Regions from separate parts of the Homo sapiens genome. Here region 1 is linked to region 2. Evidence: fine-mapped expression QTL. Tissue or cell type: monocytes. Region 2 holds a variant in brackets; the other region holds the start of a gene. All regions are shown on one strand. Distances are from middle to middle.

Region 1 (8,452 bases), 120 kb before region 2:
TCCCCTCCTCTCAAGGTTCTTAACCTTAATTACACCTGCAAAGTCTCTTTTGCCATGTAAGGTAACATATTTACAGATTCTAGGGATTATAGCATGGACATCTTTGGGGGAGGGGAGGATTATTTGGCCTACCACACAATGCCTGCACCTCCTCTGTTATTGCCTGAAAATGTAGCCAGTGGCAGAATAGGGAGCCAGATAGGCTGGTGCTGGGGCGTCGAGGGTATCAGCAGACACAGCAGCAAATCTGGAGACTAGACCCACTGTAAGAGATGATGGATTTCAGTTCTAATCCATCAGTGAACCCAGAATCCAGTGAACCTTTTGAGGCAAGAAACGTAAATATCTAACTTGGCATTTTCCTAGCATTCCCCAGCTATAAGCTAGGCAGTTTAGAAAACAAGGAATTCAGACTCTAGACCCTGCTCAATAGGTTCACCAATTAAAAGTGTCAGTCTGAGGAGAAGCAGCATGATGATGATGGGAGGCACACTCTGAGGGGAAAAGAAACAGGGTTAGGGAGGAGTGAGCCACTGTCCCAGATTAATAGAACGTTAGAACTGTCCAAAGGATCTGAGATATCCTTTAGCCATGTTCTAGGCCTTTTAGGAAGTTTTCTGGAGCAGGCCTTACGCTTTATACCTGGTTTACTGCTTTATCCACAACATCACTGTTTTAGTTGCTCAAGAAATACTTGAATGATGTACTAGAGTAGAAACTCTGGTTAGAAAGGTGAGTTGATATGTTCAAGATCAAACGGTTGGTTTGCAGGAGAGAGGGCATAGACTGGTTTTGAGTCTTTGTTCTACCAAATTTAGGAGGTACCTTCCGTAAAATGAACTCCTGCACCAAATGAGGCTTCTTGTATAATTTCTCTCTACCTTGCACATAGCATTTCTTCCTTCTATATGAAATTATTCATATAGAATAATTCTATTCATTTAATAACCTATTTATTTAATGTCTAAAACATTAGTCAAGAGACCTGAGTTCTGTTCCCTGTTTCCCCATTCACTTCCTTGGTGTCTGAGACAAATTACTTAACCTGTCCAAACTCCAGTTTCTTCAATCATGAGAGAGGCTGAGGTTCCTTCTCAGCTCGCACATTCTATAATTCTAAATTTCATGGAGGCTAATGAATTAATAAGCTCCCTGCTATGGTTTGGGTATGGCTTTGGACCTGCAAAGTGTCATGTTGAAATATGAGTCCCAGTGCTGGAGTTGGGGCCTGGTGGGAGGTGTTTGGGCCATATGGATGAATTCCTCACAAATGGCTTGGTGCTATTCTCCTGAGAGTGAGTTCTCATCCTTGAGAACAGGTTGTTCAAAAGAACCGAGAGTCAGCTTCTCCCTTTCTCTCCCCTGATGCCCCATCTTGCACTGTAGCCATGTGATCTCTGCACGAAGTCTCCCCTTTGCCTTCTGCATGAGTGGAAGCAGCATAAGGCCCTCATCTGAAGCTGACAGCCTGCAGAACCATGAGTCAAATAATCCTCTTTTCTTCATACATTATCCAGCCTCCCGTATTCCTTTATAGCAACACAAACAGATTAAGACCCTCACCCATGGACCATATGTCTGCATGTCCTCATATCAGTGTTCCCAAAAGTGTGATCAGCCACCACCAAAGTCATCTCAGGTTGGCCAAGCATGGTGGCTCATGCCTGTAATCCCAGCACTTTGGGAGGCAGAGGTGGCCTGGATCATTTGAGGTCAGGAGTTCGAGACCAGCCTGGCAAACAAAGTGAAACCCTATCTCTACTAAAAATACAAAAATTAGCCGGGTGTGGTGGTGCATGCCTGTAATCCCAGCTACTCGGGAGGCTGAGGCAGGAGAATTGCTTAAACAAGGGAGGTGGAGGTTGTAGTGAGCCACGATTGTGCCACTGCACTCCAGCCTGGGTGACAGAGTAAGACTCGGTCTCAAAAAAAAAAAAAAAAAAAATCACCTGAGATCCTTTACATATGCTGATTTTTGCAGTTGTTAAGAATAATGAATCAGATATATGGTTTCCATTAGGCCATGCTTCCCTTTTCACTCTATAGGCATGCTACACATAAAAAGTGATAATATTTATGTGGCATACTAGGGGAAGAAACCTTAAGACTGTCTCTCTGACAATGCACATCTTGCTGAGAAATTCTGCCATACGTATTGAGAAAAACAGCTGCAGAAAAATATACATATGATCTAACTTTTTCAAGACAATGCCAAAGCTCAGTATTAGAGTGTATGCATATCTGCATGAATATGTATTGTTTTTATACAATTACATGTTATTTTATGTAAGTGCAGATATACACTATTACAAGAATATTTAAAGAAATGTACTAGGTTGTTAATGTAGGGGAAGAGAAGAGGGAATACACGGAATAAAAATTTTTGTAAGTGAAAAATTCAATATGTATGTCATGACTCCATTTATACATTTATGTAAAATAATGTATAGAGATGTAAAAAATAAAAAATGCAGATCCAGAGCCCCTACCTCAGATCCTTTCAAGCGTAATCTTAGCAATAGGAGGTATGGTAAGGTGGGTGTCTGCATCTTCAACAGGTATTCCAAATGATTCTATAACAGTAAAGTCTGTAAACCTTTGCATTAGGTGCAAATATCATTAGCTGTAAACAGAACATAGTTGGAAATTTCCATCCTGCAATGCGGGCTCAGCTGACCCTCATTGTCTTGGAACATAGTAGATGCATAATAAATAGTGCAGATTATTTTGAGTCATTTGGAGGACAGGTGGAGGGAGTGAGGGCAAAAGTGGTGAGAGAAGCAGATGAGCTGGGCAAGGACATGCTTGCTCAGGAGAAGGGAGGCAAAGCGTATAAGAACATACTGAGCCTCCTTGCCACTTTCGACGTTCAACCAATATTTGTTAGGCACTAAATATACATGCAGGACACTTTTCTGTATGTTGTTTCATTTAATTCTTAAATAATCCTTTACAGACTCAGAGAGGTGAAGAGAGTAGCACAGGTAGTATCAGAATTGGGATTCAAACCTGACACATACACTGAGCACTAAGTTAAAACCGGGCACTGGGCAGCTGCTGAGGATGCGATGGTGAGTACAACAGACTGCTTGCTCTTTTTGATATCTAGAATCGTACAGCTCTGCTGTGCTCATCCTTGTCTGTTGTCATTTACTAGTTGACATCTTCGTTGACTACCTAGAAGCAGCTGCTTCGACATCTATCCCAACCTGAATCCCGTCAAAGGGAGATTACAACAAATGTGCTTTTTGTCTATCATCTCTAGCTAGTGTTTCACAGTGGGGGGAGTATCATTTCCTGGGTGACTTTGCATAGAGCAAGCTCCCCAAAGGCCAAGGAATACTCAATCTAGATTCTTCCAATCCTCCGGTACCCACCAAGTCAAAAGAATTCTGGCTCCCTGTAGCTTCATCTAAGTGCTTTTCTGTTAGAGGAGAAAAGTGAGGAAAGCGATGCTCTTTCAATAAGTTCGGCAGGGTGGGGCAAGGAATGGTACAAATTGATTTTTTTTTTTTCTTGAGACAGAGTCTCGCTCTGTCTCCCAGGCTGGAGTGCAGTGGCCCGGTCTCGGCTCACTGCGACCTCCACCTCCCGGATTCAAGCGATTCTCCTGCCTTAGCCTCCAGAGTAGCTGGGACTACAGGCGTACGCCACCACTCCCGGCTAATTTCTGTATTTTTAGTAGAGACGGGGGTTTCACCATATTGGCCAGGCTGGTTTCGAACTCATGACCTTGTGATTCGCCCGCCTCGGCCTCCCAAAGTGTTGGGATTACAGGCGTAAGCCACCGCGCCCGGCCGGTACAAATTAATTTAACACATCTTTTGATAATCTCATCCTTGGTGTTGGAAAAGACGGGAAAATCCAAAAGTGTCTATTTTGTGCCCAAATGCTCAAGTTAATACTCGAGGGCCTTGATCTCTGGCCTCTTGCCATCCCTCTCCCCATTATTTCTGAAGAAGTAGCCATTTTGCAGATTCCGGAGGATGGGAGCCACGGCCGGCCCCTGGTACTGAATCTCATCTCCTTCTCAAGGCTCCTTGGATCAAGTTGGGACCGGCAGCGCCAAGGCTGCTCTCCGTGATTTAGCAGCAACCTAGAGTCAGAGAGACCGGAAGATGGGAGGCCGGGATTCTCAGGTGGGGTCAGGGGTATGCAAAAATCCTTAGCAGCGGCCGCGCCCCCGCCCCGGGGAGGTAATTTGCGGAGGGCGGTGCAGTAGCCTCTCCAGTGCCCGCGTCCCACGGTCTAACGGCACTGCTCCCGGGGTGCGCGGCCCACGACTCAGGCTGCCTCCCCCAACCTGACAAGTGTGCGTCCTTACCACAAAATGCCACCACTTCCCTAAGTGACGCTGGGCCCCGAGGACCTGATTTGAAATCGGTGTTCAGAAGACCGAGCCCGGCTGGACGCAGCTGGCCTCCGGCTGAGAGCGGAGGGGAAGGGTTCCATACTCTCCGAGGATCCCGCGGGCTCGTGGCGTGTGGAACGCTTTTCATCGCTTTCAGTTCCCGTTTCCTTCGCCCCGACTGCCTACTCGGTCGCAGCTAAAGCCCGGAGCGTGGGATCCGGGCCCGGAGGAACGGGATGGCGAACGCGAGCTGCGCCGCGGCCAGGAGCCCGCCGCACCGGGCATGCTCAGTGGCGCGGCCGGCTGGGTGGCCCGCGAGCTGCACCCGGATCTGCTCGGCGGCGGCGACGTGAGCGCGCAGGGGGGCGGCGGCCTCGCCTCGTCTCTCTCTCTGCGCCTGGGTCGGGTGGGTGACGCCGAGAGCCAGAGAGATGTCGGATTTCGACAGTAACCCGTTTGCCGACCCGGATCTCAACAATCCCTTCAAGGTGAGCTTCGGCCCCAGCATCTCCTGCCGCCGCGACGCGTCGTTGTTTGTGAAAACGGACGAGTTCCTTCGCGCCCACTGCGTCTGCCCCTCGGCTCCCCTTAGCAGCCCAGAGAGGGGCGCGGGGCCGCCGTCCTCCATTTGGGGTCGCGCCCCGGCCCCGTGTCACTCCTTTGGGTTTTGGGGCTTGGGGGTGGAACCTCCTCAGCTCGTGCCCGGTCGCCCTTCCACACGTCCCCGACTGGTGAGGGTCGTGTCTGCAGCCGGGACTGGGCCCGCGCGCCCGGAGGGGTCCTGGCCCGCCTCTCAGGAGAGAAAGCCGAGGGCAGGTAGAGTCGCCCCTTGCCAAGCAAGTGTGGCTGGCAGGGCCGGGAGTCGGCGGAGGGGGGCCCGCCCTGGGGTGGGGTTGTCATGGGGACCCGAGGTGGCGGCGGCGGAGAGCTGCGTGGGGTGATGGCAGAGGTGTGGAGGAGGAGAGAGGTGAGGGCACCGAGTATGCTGCAATTAAAAAAAAAAAGGTTATGTTTTTATTTTTTAAACTTGTGTTGCACCCAAATACCACCAGTGGCGCTGCCATCCCCCCTCTTTCTGTTAGGTTGAGGTTGAGGTTATTGATACCAAAGCAAAACTTAAAAATAAACATATCTGGAAAACAATAGTGCACGTGGACGACCTCTTCCCTACCCAGCTGCTTCTAGCAAGGTAAACGATGGGATATTTTCCAAGCTCCTAGTGCGTCACCGGTTCTCTGGGCTATGTGAGGATACCATTTCCTACTTGAGCTGCTTTTCTTCTTGGAGTCGACCTTATCAACCCCGGCTTCGGAAGGGCTTGGCACAGAATCCTGCAAAGGAAGGCGGCTGAGATATTCATCGTCTGCGTTTAAATGAATGCAACATCTAAATAACTCTCTCTTTGAAAGTATTCTGAATTTCCTAATGAGTGTAACTGTTAGCACGTGTAATTTGTTTCCAACTGTTGGTTGAAGTTGTTTCTCAATCCCCCCGGCCATGTGCAGTAGTAACTTTAATTTGCAGTCACACAGAATAAAACAGGAACTCTAATTTGTGGTCACACAAGTGTCACTTCTGGCTTGTTGAGTTTACATCTTTTTACTCCTGGTTTTATCTTTCATTAAGAATCCTGGAAGAGGAAAACTATTTCTGCTCTGATTATTAAATGCCTGATAATTCCAAGGAGGATTATTTTAATGAAATGACCCTGATTATTATTGACAACTCGACTCACTTTGTAGCAGTGTAGAATTAGACTCAGTCACTGTTTCATTGTCCCTAATGTCACTTAAAATTCAGTACAACTGGCCTGTACCTTTCAGTGACATGGTTGCATTTTAAGACTTTTTTTTTTTTCCTGGCAGTTTTGTTTCAATTAGTATTGGACTTGCTTCCATGTTGTGGAAAATCAGGTAGTTCTTAAATGGTAGACTTTCTAAAGAGACCGTTCATAAATTGTTAAATGGGTGTTATTTTAAAATATTTTGAAGATAAAACATCAAGAACCTTTTAGCCTTTCCTAATTCAGATAATTCACTGACGCTGTTTATTCAGCATCTGACGATTTGGCAGTGTATTTTCTACTTGGTCATTCCATTTCATGGTTCATTTCATATTAACTGGCTCTCTTGTTAGGGCAAAACATTGTCTTCATCTTAGCCCAGACTGTCCTTTTGTGACATCTGATATTGCCATGACACTTTTCCTCTTCTGACATTCATAAAGTTGCTGTAGTAATTCTAAACCCAGGAGTTGTTTTAAATATTCATTGTGGCATAACGTTATAAATCTTTTTTGTTCTTTTATAAGTGGATGTATCCAGGACAATGATTATTCAAGTTTGTAAAATGCATCAGGGACAGATCATTTAGGTCTAAAGTAGACTTGGTTGTACACATATTTCTGCTTATGATCTTTCTCTGTTTTTGGTGACTGTTATAGCACTGTCAGTGTATCTGACCCTTTATTTTTCCATTTATGTTCACCTGCCCCTCCTCCTCACAAAGTATAGTTTTATATCTATATTTTGTCTTTTTACTTCTGCTTATATTTATGTAAAAGTGATTTTTGAAATAACATTTCTGATACTCTACTTAAATCTGAAATGTTTCTAGAATCATTTGAGTTACTTTATGATCATTTTTCTTTTTTTACTTTTTTTTTTTTTTTGAGACGGAGTCTTGCACTGTTGCCCCGGCTGGAGTGCAATGGCGTGATCTCAACTCACCACAACCTCTGCCTCCCGTGTTCAAGTGATTCTCCTGCCTCAACCTCCCTAGTAGCTGGTATTACAGGTGCCCGCCACCACACCCGGCTAATTCTTTGTATTTTTAGTAGAGACAGGGTTTCATTGTATTGGCCAGGCTGGTCTTGAACTCCTGACCTCGTGATCCACCTGCCTCAGTCTCCCAAAGTGCTGGGATTACGGGCGGGAGCCACTGCGTTCAAGCAGATCGTTTTTCTTTCTTTCTTTCTTTCTTTTTTTTTTTGAGACGGAGTCTCCCTCTGTCGCCCAGGTTGGAGTGCAGTGGCGCGATCTCTGCTCACTGCAAGCGCTGCCTCCTGGGTTCACACCATTCTCCTGCCTCAGACTCCCAAGTAGCTGGGACTACAGGCGCCCGCCACCACCGGCTGATTTTTTGTATTTTTAGTAGAGACGGGGTTTCACCGTGTTAGCCAGGATGGTCTCGATCTCCTGACCTCGTGATCTACCCGCCTTGGCCTCCCAAAGTGCTGGGATTACAGGCGTGAACCACTGGGCCCGACCCATTTTTCAAATCTGTTTTTATTTGCAGTATTTGAAGATAAAGCTCTTATTTTCAAGTATATGATATTTCGCATTTGGTAACTATGCTAATTTCTTTTTCATTAAATCCTATTTGTTTTCCATTGCCTTTTTCATTTTTTAGCATTTCTTTTCCTTCACTTTTATGTTAGGAATACTTCTGCAAGCATCTTCGTTTGTGCCGTATCATGAAAGTAGTTTGAGTCTATTCTCCTTATATAATATAACCATAGTGGTTTACTTGATTTTATTGGTTCTTGTAAGGCTATTTGCTGGATTCAGTTCATTTTTTTTTGTTGAGCCCCTGCTTTATATTCTAGTGGTTTTCCTAGGCTTAGTGAATGGTTTTATGAAATTTGAATGGCTTTCATTGCGCATCAAGAAACTTGGAATAACTGGAAATCTGTAGTGATCGAAAAGAAAATAGGTGATTAATTATATAGAAGTTTCTGAGGATCCACTCTTGAGCTGTTAAAATGGGGTTTTAAAGCTATAGAGGGAAAAATATTTTCTGTATAGTCAACATGTAATTATTGAAGAATTGCTGTATGTCCTTTGTTTTCTGTTGAGTTTATTCATTCAACAAATACTGAAGAAGTGTCTCTGTCCTTATGGCTATTAGTCTAACAGTGAGACAAATATGCTTGGAAAATGAATGAAAGGGGAGAGTTTAATAACCAGCAGAGGTCAGCAATATAGGCTCTTACAAGTCAGCATAAGAGTGTATGGTTAAGTGCCGGAACAAGTGCAGTTTGTTCATAAAAGGAAGAAATTAGTAAGTGGTCAGAAAATTTTCATGCTTTATGCTTTTGCAT
Region 2 (8,452 bases):
TAATGTTGCATGTTTCAGTGGGTTGGAAGTTTTGTATATTTATTGTATTAACACAGAGTGTCATAAAATAAAATGCTGTTTACTGGATGTTTGTTTGTATAATTTTGAACACTATAATAGCAATTCAGAGACAGACATTGTTAAAGGTTTGATGTATATAGAAATTCCATGTTTGATTTTTTAAAATATGTGTATAAGTCTGTCATGTGCTAAACAAAATAATATGAAAGACCTAGTTAAAAATTCTAACCAATGTAAAATGACCATTTTTCTGTTGCATTAGACCTTTACAGGTAATGGAACATGAGCTTCACCCATATTAAATATTTTGGCCCCTTTAAGGTCAAAATACAGATCATCTAGAAGTTAGATTCAAAATGGAAAACCTATTCATGGCTCAGATTTTTCATTGTGGGTTAAAAATGGGTGTCTCTGTACTAGTATTGTATTTATTCAATTGAACTTGTATTCTGATTTCTATCCTTGCTACCTATTGCTGTTTTATGTACTGATGAAAGTACCTATTTGTGTATATTGGATTTTTCACTTGGTTAGCTAAAGAAGATGTAAAAATATCTAAAATAATGTTCATGGTGAATCTTATTTTGAGAAATACATGTTAAAAAAGGAACAGTATTCTTTATTTTCTGGGTGTTATATTTAAAAAAGCAAGTTTGGATTTTTACACCTAATTTACTAGGAAAATATTTTATTCTGTAATTCATGTTAAGATTATGTATGGTTTGCATTTTAAGGGGATTTATGTTAGGTTAATTAGTTGTTTCTGTAAATCATTTGTAATAGCATAGTGCTTTTTACTCATTGCTGTATCTTTTTCTGAAAACACTGTTGTTAACATCTAATTCAGTATCCTTATTGGTACAAATCTGTGTTTGGCATGACTGTTTATATACAGAATTTGTTACATTTTGAGCATTTTTTCCCCTGCTTATGTATACCTTAGAGTTACCATGGCTGTCATATACCATTTCACTATATCTCCTTTCAGTTTTTCCTTAAGGAAAATGTTTAGAGGAATTTGTTCATTTCATGTGATTAAGCCCTTTAGAGATGAAATAAGATTGGTTAATTTTAAAAAAATTGAGGATGGTTAAAAAATAGAAAACACCTTACTTTGATACATTTTAAAGTACAATAGTATACATTTATTTAGAGTAGACTAATGTGTTTAAAACATGAGTTGTTTTAAATACTTTTTTATTGAGCTAAAAAGTTTTATCTCACATATTAAGTATTACAGAAAGTGAAGTATTTTGGCTAGAATTTTAGGGCATATTTTATAAAGCAGCATGCCTGTAATATTGGTGGGTATTTTTAAACTTTAGGACTTTATCACAGTATGTAGAGAGCTAGAAATAAATCTAGAAACTTTCTAAGCCAGGTATTGCCACTAACCTGTCTTATATAAGCAGATACCTCTTATTTGAAGATTGTAGGAAAATAGAGAAAGACTGTTCTCCAGTTTTCTCACCCCCGCTGTGGGTTTTATATTTACAATTTAACTTTGGGGTTTGGGTAAGACAAACATTTAATGTATAGGATTTTGGCCAGGTGTGGTGGCTCACGCCTGTAATCCCAGCACTTTGGGAGGCCAAGGTGGGCGGATCACGAGGTCAGGAGATCGAAACCATCCTGGCTAACATGGTGAAACCCCATCTCTACTAAAAATACAAAAAAAAAATTAGCTGAGCATGGTGGCGGGCGCCTGTAGTCCCAGCTACTTGGGAGGCTGAGGCAGGAGAATGACGTGAACCTGGGAGGCGGAGCTTGCAGTGAGCCGAGATCTCTCCACTGCACTCCAGCCTGGGCGACAGAGCGAGACTCCATCTCAAGAAAAAAAAAAAAGAATTTTCATTAGTGCTGGCCGTGTTTCAAATGGCAAGGGAACATGGGAACTATCATGTGGCAATGTAGTGAGTGTTAAACTTTGTGTTTGTCCAAATCCTGATTTATTTTTCAGTTCATATCTTTCTGGGCTTGACATGGCTGATGGTGTAGCTGAAACCCTCCTAACACTAAAAGCCATTTAATCTTTTCTGTAATAGGAGCAGAAAATAGTTAATCATCCACCTAGTAATATAAGATTACTGTGAATATTATCTTCTATACATTAAAACAGTTCTAGTTTGTAGAATAATACCATACAAGTTTTATTTTTAAATTCTAGTTATTTTCAGTGCTTACTTAAATGTAATTCTAGAATTCCTCCACAACTTTTAATATTTTGTATGCCAGTGATTCTCAAGATAAATCATGATTGTAGTAGTTGTTACTGTTGGCAGTTTGTAGTAGTATTCAGGTATTTTGGGGATGGGGGAAAACACCAAAAATCAGTGTCTTTTATCTGGTGATCACTGTGGTATCTACAGTATTCTAGTCTCCTGCACAAAAACTGAACCCACTGGGCCTATGCATCCCTCACACTTTTTTTCTAGTATAAAAGCAATACATAATGTGTTGTAGAACAATTAAAAATTCAGAAAGTGATACATGAGAAAATAAAAATAAATCCTTAATTCTGTCATCTTGGGGTACCTCTGCTAATATTTTATTGTCTTCCATTCTTTTTCTATGCATATGTGTTTTGTTTAGTTAAGAGATATAAGCAATATGGATTTTTAAAAACCTTATTTTCCCCTCACTTAGCTTTATGTCATAATGGCGCAATAGTTTAGTTTTTTAAATTAACTTTTTTAATTTATAAAATTAATGTATATTTCAGTATAAATTATAGAAAATATAAGCAAAAGAAATAACCAAAATTCTCATAATTTTACATCCATGAATAACTTCTATTAAAATCTGGTTTATATCTTTCTATTTTTCTAGGAAGACAACTTCCTAATATTAAAAATGAGATGACCCCGTACATCCTTGTACATCCTTTAGGGATGTCTACCTACTCCTCAAAAGCCCCACTTCTTTGGGTCCTTAAAGTCCACATTGGTACTGGATGTCATCTGGCCATAGTGGACTCATTCCTGGCTTATCAGTTTTTTATTCTGAATGTAGATATGTCTAGAACTCTACTGTTCCAGAATTGGAACATAAGAGGTAGCCATTTTCTGCCATGAGGAAGGAATCACCAAGAAAGCTGGTCTGCAATGAAAATGAAGAATGAAACAGACATAACAGGAGATGTAAAATGAATGACATAGAAAAGATCTTAGTGGCTTTCCTTTTCCTTTATGGAGCCCTACTTCTCACCCTTATCCCATTATCCTCATAATCTTACCGCTTTTTCTCCCTCAACTATCTTGAATTGGTTTCTTATTACTTTTAACTGGAGGATCTTAACACAACAGTTTATCTTATTTCAGTTATGATATAAATATGTATTGAAGATTTTAATATCTCTGAATATATTTCTGTAACATTTAGTATAGCTATATAGCTAACATCATATGTATGTATCATAAAGTCTTGTTATTCCTTTAGGTTCTGATTTTCAGGGTTTTAAAGTTATAAATAATTTATCAAGGAATATATTGTTGCTAAATTTGGGGACTCGGGCTTTTGTTTTTTCTTTAGGACAGATTGCTGAGTTAAAGGGTATTATGCATAGTTTTTAAAGCACCTTTCATGTGCTTTGCCAAGTTGCTCTCCAGAAAAATTTTATCCATATGTAACTCCATCAGCAATGTACGGAAAGGCCTCTTTCTTCACATCCTTGGCCAGCATTGGATGTTCCTTTTCTAAAAAGTCTTTTATCCCAATAGATTTTGACAAATCAGGTTTCTTTTCTGAGCATTCTGGTTTCACATGGCTTATGTGCTCACCCAATGCTACCGGTTTGTTTGTTTGTTTTTGTTTTTGCTAAATAGGAGTAACTGAGTACCCTGCATCCACTGAGAAATCTTCTGCTTCCTGAAAGCTCTAAGGTAAAGATAATTAGCTGAATGCTCTGTTATAACAGGATGGAAAAAGAAATGGTGGCCTCAGGTAGCCAATCCACTGAGTCTCTCCAGGTAAAATTACACTGGTTTCGACAAGTTATGTTACCTTTCATAGAATGTAATTTTAAAATGATATTAGTCTGGGTGGGTAGTATTTTCTTAGTTTTTTTCTAATAATAGCTTATTGTGGGCTTAATTATATACCAGTGTTCTGTACTAAATGCTTTATATACATCACTTAATTTTCATACCAAACTTGTGATATAATTTCTGTTGTTGGCTCTGTTTTTGTAGAGTTCTAGGAAATTACCCCAAGGTCACTCAGTGAGTGGTGGTGGTGAAGGGCTGGAGAGGGATGATG[A/G]GAACAGGCAGGTCCCCTGACTCCTGCCAAGCGTGGCTGCCCCACCATGCCGCCTCGTTCCAGTTGTCTTCCCTTTCATCCTTCCACATTTCCAGTCATTCATGTCCATCCTTTAGGGACAACAGATACTAGAAAAAAAATCAACAAAAAAAATTTTTACATATATTTTTGAAGTCTCCAGACCAAATGCTAACACCTGCCACCTAAAGGTGAGTACCTGCTGCCCATTCTTCAGCAGTGTAAATTTACTAAAGGGTCTTTGGCGTTTGTGTGTTTGGAGAAACTTTAGTCGAGGACAAATCCTTATTATTAGGTTAAATATGCTTCTTATGTGATTATAATAGTTGCTTACCCTGAATGAGAGATTATTTATACTAAGAAAACAATAAAAACTGTCAAAGCCTATCATTTATTTTCCCACTGTCACATACTTAATGAATTTCTTGTGTCTGTTTTCAGGATTGAGCTAAATCATGATTGATAAATTGAGACATATGGTGTCATCTTCAAAATTATGAAAAATCACTAGGTGTTTTCTCTGAAAGGGAGGAAGAAGCAGTGTTTTCATCAGTTGTGATGGTGAGGCCCTTTTGGAGTTTTATTTGGAAGTTATTCTAAGTGTTTACAATGTAGAGATATTGCCCAGGAGTTTGCATTGGCTGCCTTCCCACCTTGTGCATTCCAGGTAGAAGGAAACAACATAGCAGTTTGAGTGAGTTGCCTTTGGTGTCAAACATGTATCTGAGCTTTGGCTTTTCCGCTTATTAGCTTTCTAACCTGGGATACATTATTTAACCTCAGTTATTTAAGTGACAGTTATCTGTAAAACAATAGTAACAGTTTCTATCTCATAGGATTTTGATGAATAAATGAATTTTATGAAGTATTTAGCATAGTATCTGCCCATAGAAGTTGCACAATAACTAAGGACACTTACCATCTCTCAGGTGTATTGATGACTCCCAAATCTCTCTCTCTCCTTAGTATAGTCCTAGCTGCACACAGGACTTCTACATTGGCAGCCTAAGCTGAACCTCCTCACCTTCATTGTCCCTGCTTCTTCTGGAGTCTTCATCTTGGTGATCACATCACCTTCCACTCAGTGTCTACGCTAAATACCTGGCTGTCATCCTAGACTCTTTCCTCTCCTTCCTCTCCACTTCTGATCAGTCACCTGCCCATTCTTTTTCCCTAACATAGAATTCATCCCATTGACTGTCCTTTACCATCACTGCCTTAATTCAGGCTTTCGTCTCTTGTGAATAAAATCATAGTGGTTTCCCCTAAACATAGGCATTTGGACTGCCTACCTGTAGGTGTTCAATTTTTCAGGATGTTTGGCTAGAAAAAGCTAAAAAGCTGCTAATAGCAATGTGTTACTTGATTGACTTTTCTTTCCCATGTGGTTTTGGTTTCACTACTTCCTCTTTTTGTGTGCTTTTATCTGTGTCCTGTGTACCTTAGTAAAATTGGCAGTTCTTGTCTGCAAGACTTATCTTGCACAACTGTTCAGGGTAAGGAGAGGAAGTTGCAAGGAAGAAGATAGTAGTAGGGGGAGCAGTGGGATGGCTCTGCCAAATGACTCAGCTGCTAGTGAGGGCCTCTGAAATAAAGTTATTGGTTCTTACTGCTTTGAAGAGTAAAGTTTGCTTTGATACCCTACCCTTCATTGTTTGAGAGTTGAAAAAGATTGTTTGAAACTACTGAAATAATATCCACATAAAATATCCACGTTAGTAAGGACCGTTGTAAGTGGTTGTTTGGTTAAGCAAAAACTTTAAGGGGGTGTAGGTGTAATTTGAATGCAGCATGTTCCAGAAAGATCAGTGTGGAAAGTGGACCTAGTAGCAGAATTGCTAGATAACAACTAAGGATGGGAAGCGGGGGAAGCACATGGGAGGATTCCCCAGCTTCTGCTAAAATTCAACCAGGGTCCATTCTCTGTGTGGATTAACTTTTGGGGAATACAATAACAGCTGAAAAAGCAATGGAAATTTTCTAATTTTTCTTGGGTTATTCAAATCATGATTATTTGGAAAACTGTGTGTGGTTTTTTTAAACTGATATGGGTAACTTTGTCAGCTTTTATTAGAAACCAAAACATGAATCTAATTTCAACTGTCATAGGCCCTAGATCAGGGGAAGAAACTGCCTTTTTTTGGTATGAAATAATAAATGCTTCATGGGATACAGAGAGTTGAGAGTTGAGAAGGGCATTTAGTGTCATTCTTGAGTTTATAAATTAGAATTCCACCTCTTCTGGATGAGGGTTTATATGGCCAGGATTACCTTCAGGAAACATGGATGTGGAATGGCACCGTATCATTGGCTTTTATTTTTAGGGATGTTGTTGGAAGAGGAGGATGTGTCTTTCAGTTAACTTTTCCCCTTGTCATTGTTACATATTTATGTTTGAAAATCCCTTTTTAATACTTCGGAGCATTTTCATATTTCATAGCTTTACTTTAAAATATATGTTTACAATACTTGAGATGTTTTTTCCTATTTACAATTGTGTTGATGCTTCTTCAAGGAAGAAATACATACTTGACGTTAAAGAAAGATAGCCCAGGGTAGGGACATATATGTTACTAGTGAATGGGATAGTTTAAAATACCTGAATATCTTTTTTCCATTCATCAATATTACATGTAAGTTAGTGTTTAAAATAAATGTTGACTGATTGATAGGTATTTTCTTGATCAGATTATACACATCATATTGAAGCCAGTATACTCAGACTTGAAAGAATAAGAATGAATTGCAAAATCTGGTTTAATTAAGATCTGGGGAGGGGAGCACATAGTGAAAATACATATGCACAGGAACCAAATCAATGCTAGACAATGTATTAGTTTACAATATAATAGGATAACTACAAGTTTGAAGGCTCAAATTGAGTCCATCAGCTGTAAATACAATTTTATATTTGGCTCAAGTGGCTGTTGAATATCAAGTGGTGCCGAGTCCCTCCAGAGCACCTACTGACCCCCTCAGCCTTGGAAGGAGTTTCACCACAGTCTCAGAAGAAATCCCAGTCGTGCCTTTAACTCTTTTGGCCCTTGGGAGTCATTGCAACCCCAATACAAATGCCGGCCCAGGGATTTCCAGTGGCCACAAGTTATTGCACAGAGAGGTCTGTTCTAAGCCAGACTCTTACAGCTAAGGAGGTGTGAGATTAGCCCTTAAATACTGGTCTAGCATTAGCATGGTCTATAAAAGCATGTTAAGAAATAGCTCCTCAGTGATTATGTACCAGCTACTAGTTATCCTACTAAGAGAAAAGGCAACATGGCAGCTTCACATTTCACATGAAAGACTAGCATTAACTGGGCCTGGCGTGCGGGCTTAACTTTGACATAACACTAGCGATTATTTTAGACCCAGGAAAAAATGATTTCATACCAGTCTTTTCTTCACATAAGATTTGTGTAGCATTAAAATTATGGGTTACTGAATAAGCCATGAAGGCAAAAATGTGGAACTCTCCTTGCCAAAACAGAAACAAACATCCCTGTTTTGACTCCTGTCCAGTTTCCAAAACAAAACAACAAAACATACATACACCTTTGTTATTGCACATCTTTCACACAAACTTGTGTATGTATAATATACATATATATTTTTAAATATGCTACACATAAAAAAAGACTATGGCACTTTACAGAATATATGTTTAACAAAGATCATTACACCACAGATGTTTGAAAACTATACAAAAACCCTTATACAATTAATGCAACATTGTTTGAATTATTAGCACACAGGTTTAAAGAATCCACAGAATCCAAGGCAAATATTTCTGCCTCAGAGTTCATTGAGAAGCGCAGCCCATCCCATCCCGTCATGAGACTTTCTTTAAGCCAATTTCAGGCAAAATAAATAAGACTTTCCTGGTAGTAATAATGGTCCTATTTATTAGAAAAATAAGTGTGAGCCAACAATCTATTTTTAACATTTCTTTCTAGCATATTCCTCATACCCAGTGGTTTTTAAACAGCTGTGTGGAAGAGCATGGTTTAGACTAGCATGATTTTAGATGGTCCTTTCATCCCAAGCCTGGCTAATGGATTCAAGGTTTAAAAGTCCCAACATTACCTTTTTACTATTTACTAAGTCAGTGTTTAGGTAGTTTTTAGTGGTTTGGGGTTCTGTGTGTGTGCATGCCTGTGCT

Alleles and levels. Positions count from the first base shown, and alleles are read on the strand shown. Sizes are in standard deviations (SD) of each study's normalised expression.
With allele A in place of G in region 2, the expression in monocytes of the gene that starts at base 4,728 in region 1 is higher (large effect, 0.86 SD a copy in Quach 2016).

Evidence for each region.
Region 1: SCAMP1 starts here. The variant in region 2 is fine-mapped to the expression of SCAMP1 in monocytes (Quach 2016, PIP 0.95).

The regions. Positions count from the first base shown.
Region 1 is chr5:78,355,890-78,364,341 of GRCh38, forward strand. SCAMP1 (secretory carrier membrane protein 1) reads left to right here and starts at 4,728. Exons shown (of 9, transcript NM_004866.6): 1 at 4,728-4,839. The coding sequence starts at 4,783. SCAMP1-AS1 (SCAMP1 antisense RNA 1) reads right to left here and starts at 4,652. Exons shown (of 2, transcript NR_105014.1): 1 at 4,325-4,652; 2 at 2,875-4,096. RefSeq lists enhancers at 3,780-4,376, 4,178-4,267, 4,298-4,457, 4,377-4,973, 5,368-5,487 and silencers at 4,638-4,727, 5,158-5,277.
Region 2 is chr5:78,478,195-78,486,646 of GRCh38, forward strand. It overlaps SCAMP1 (secretory carrier membrane protein 1), which reads left to right. Exons shown (of 9, transcript NM_004866.6): 9 at 1-2,545. LHFPL2 (LHFPL tetraspan subfamily member 2) reads right to left here. Exons shown (of 5, transcript NM_005779.3): 5 at 7,036-8,452. Among named protein-coding and RNA genes, the nearest start is that of SCAMP1, 120 kb to the left of the region's middle. The variant A/G (reference allele first, on the strand shown) is at 4,279.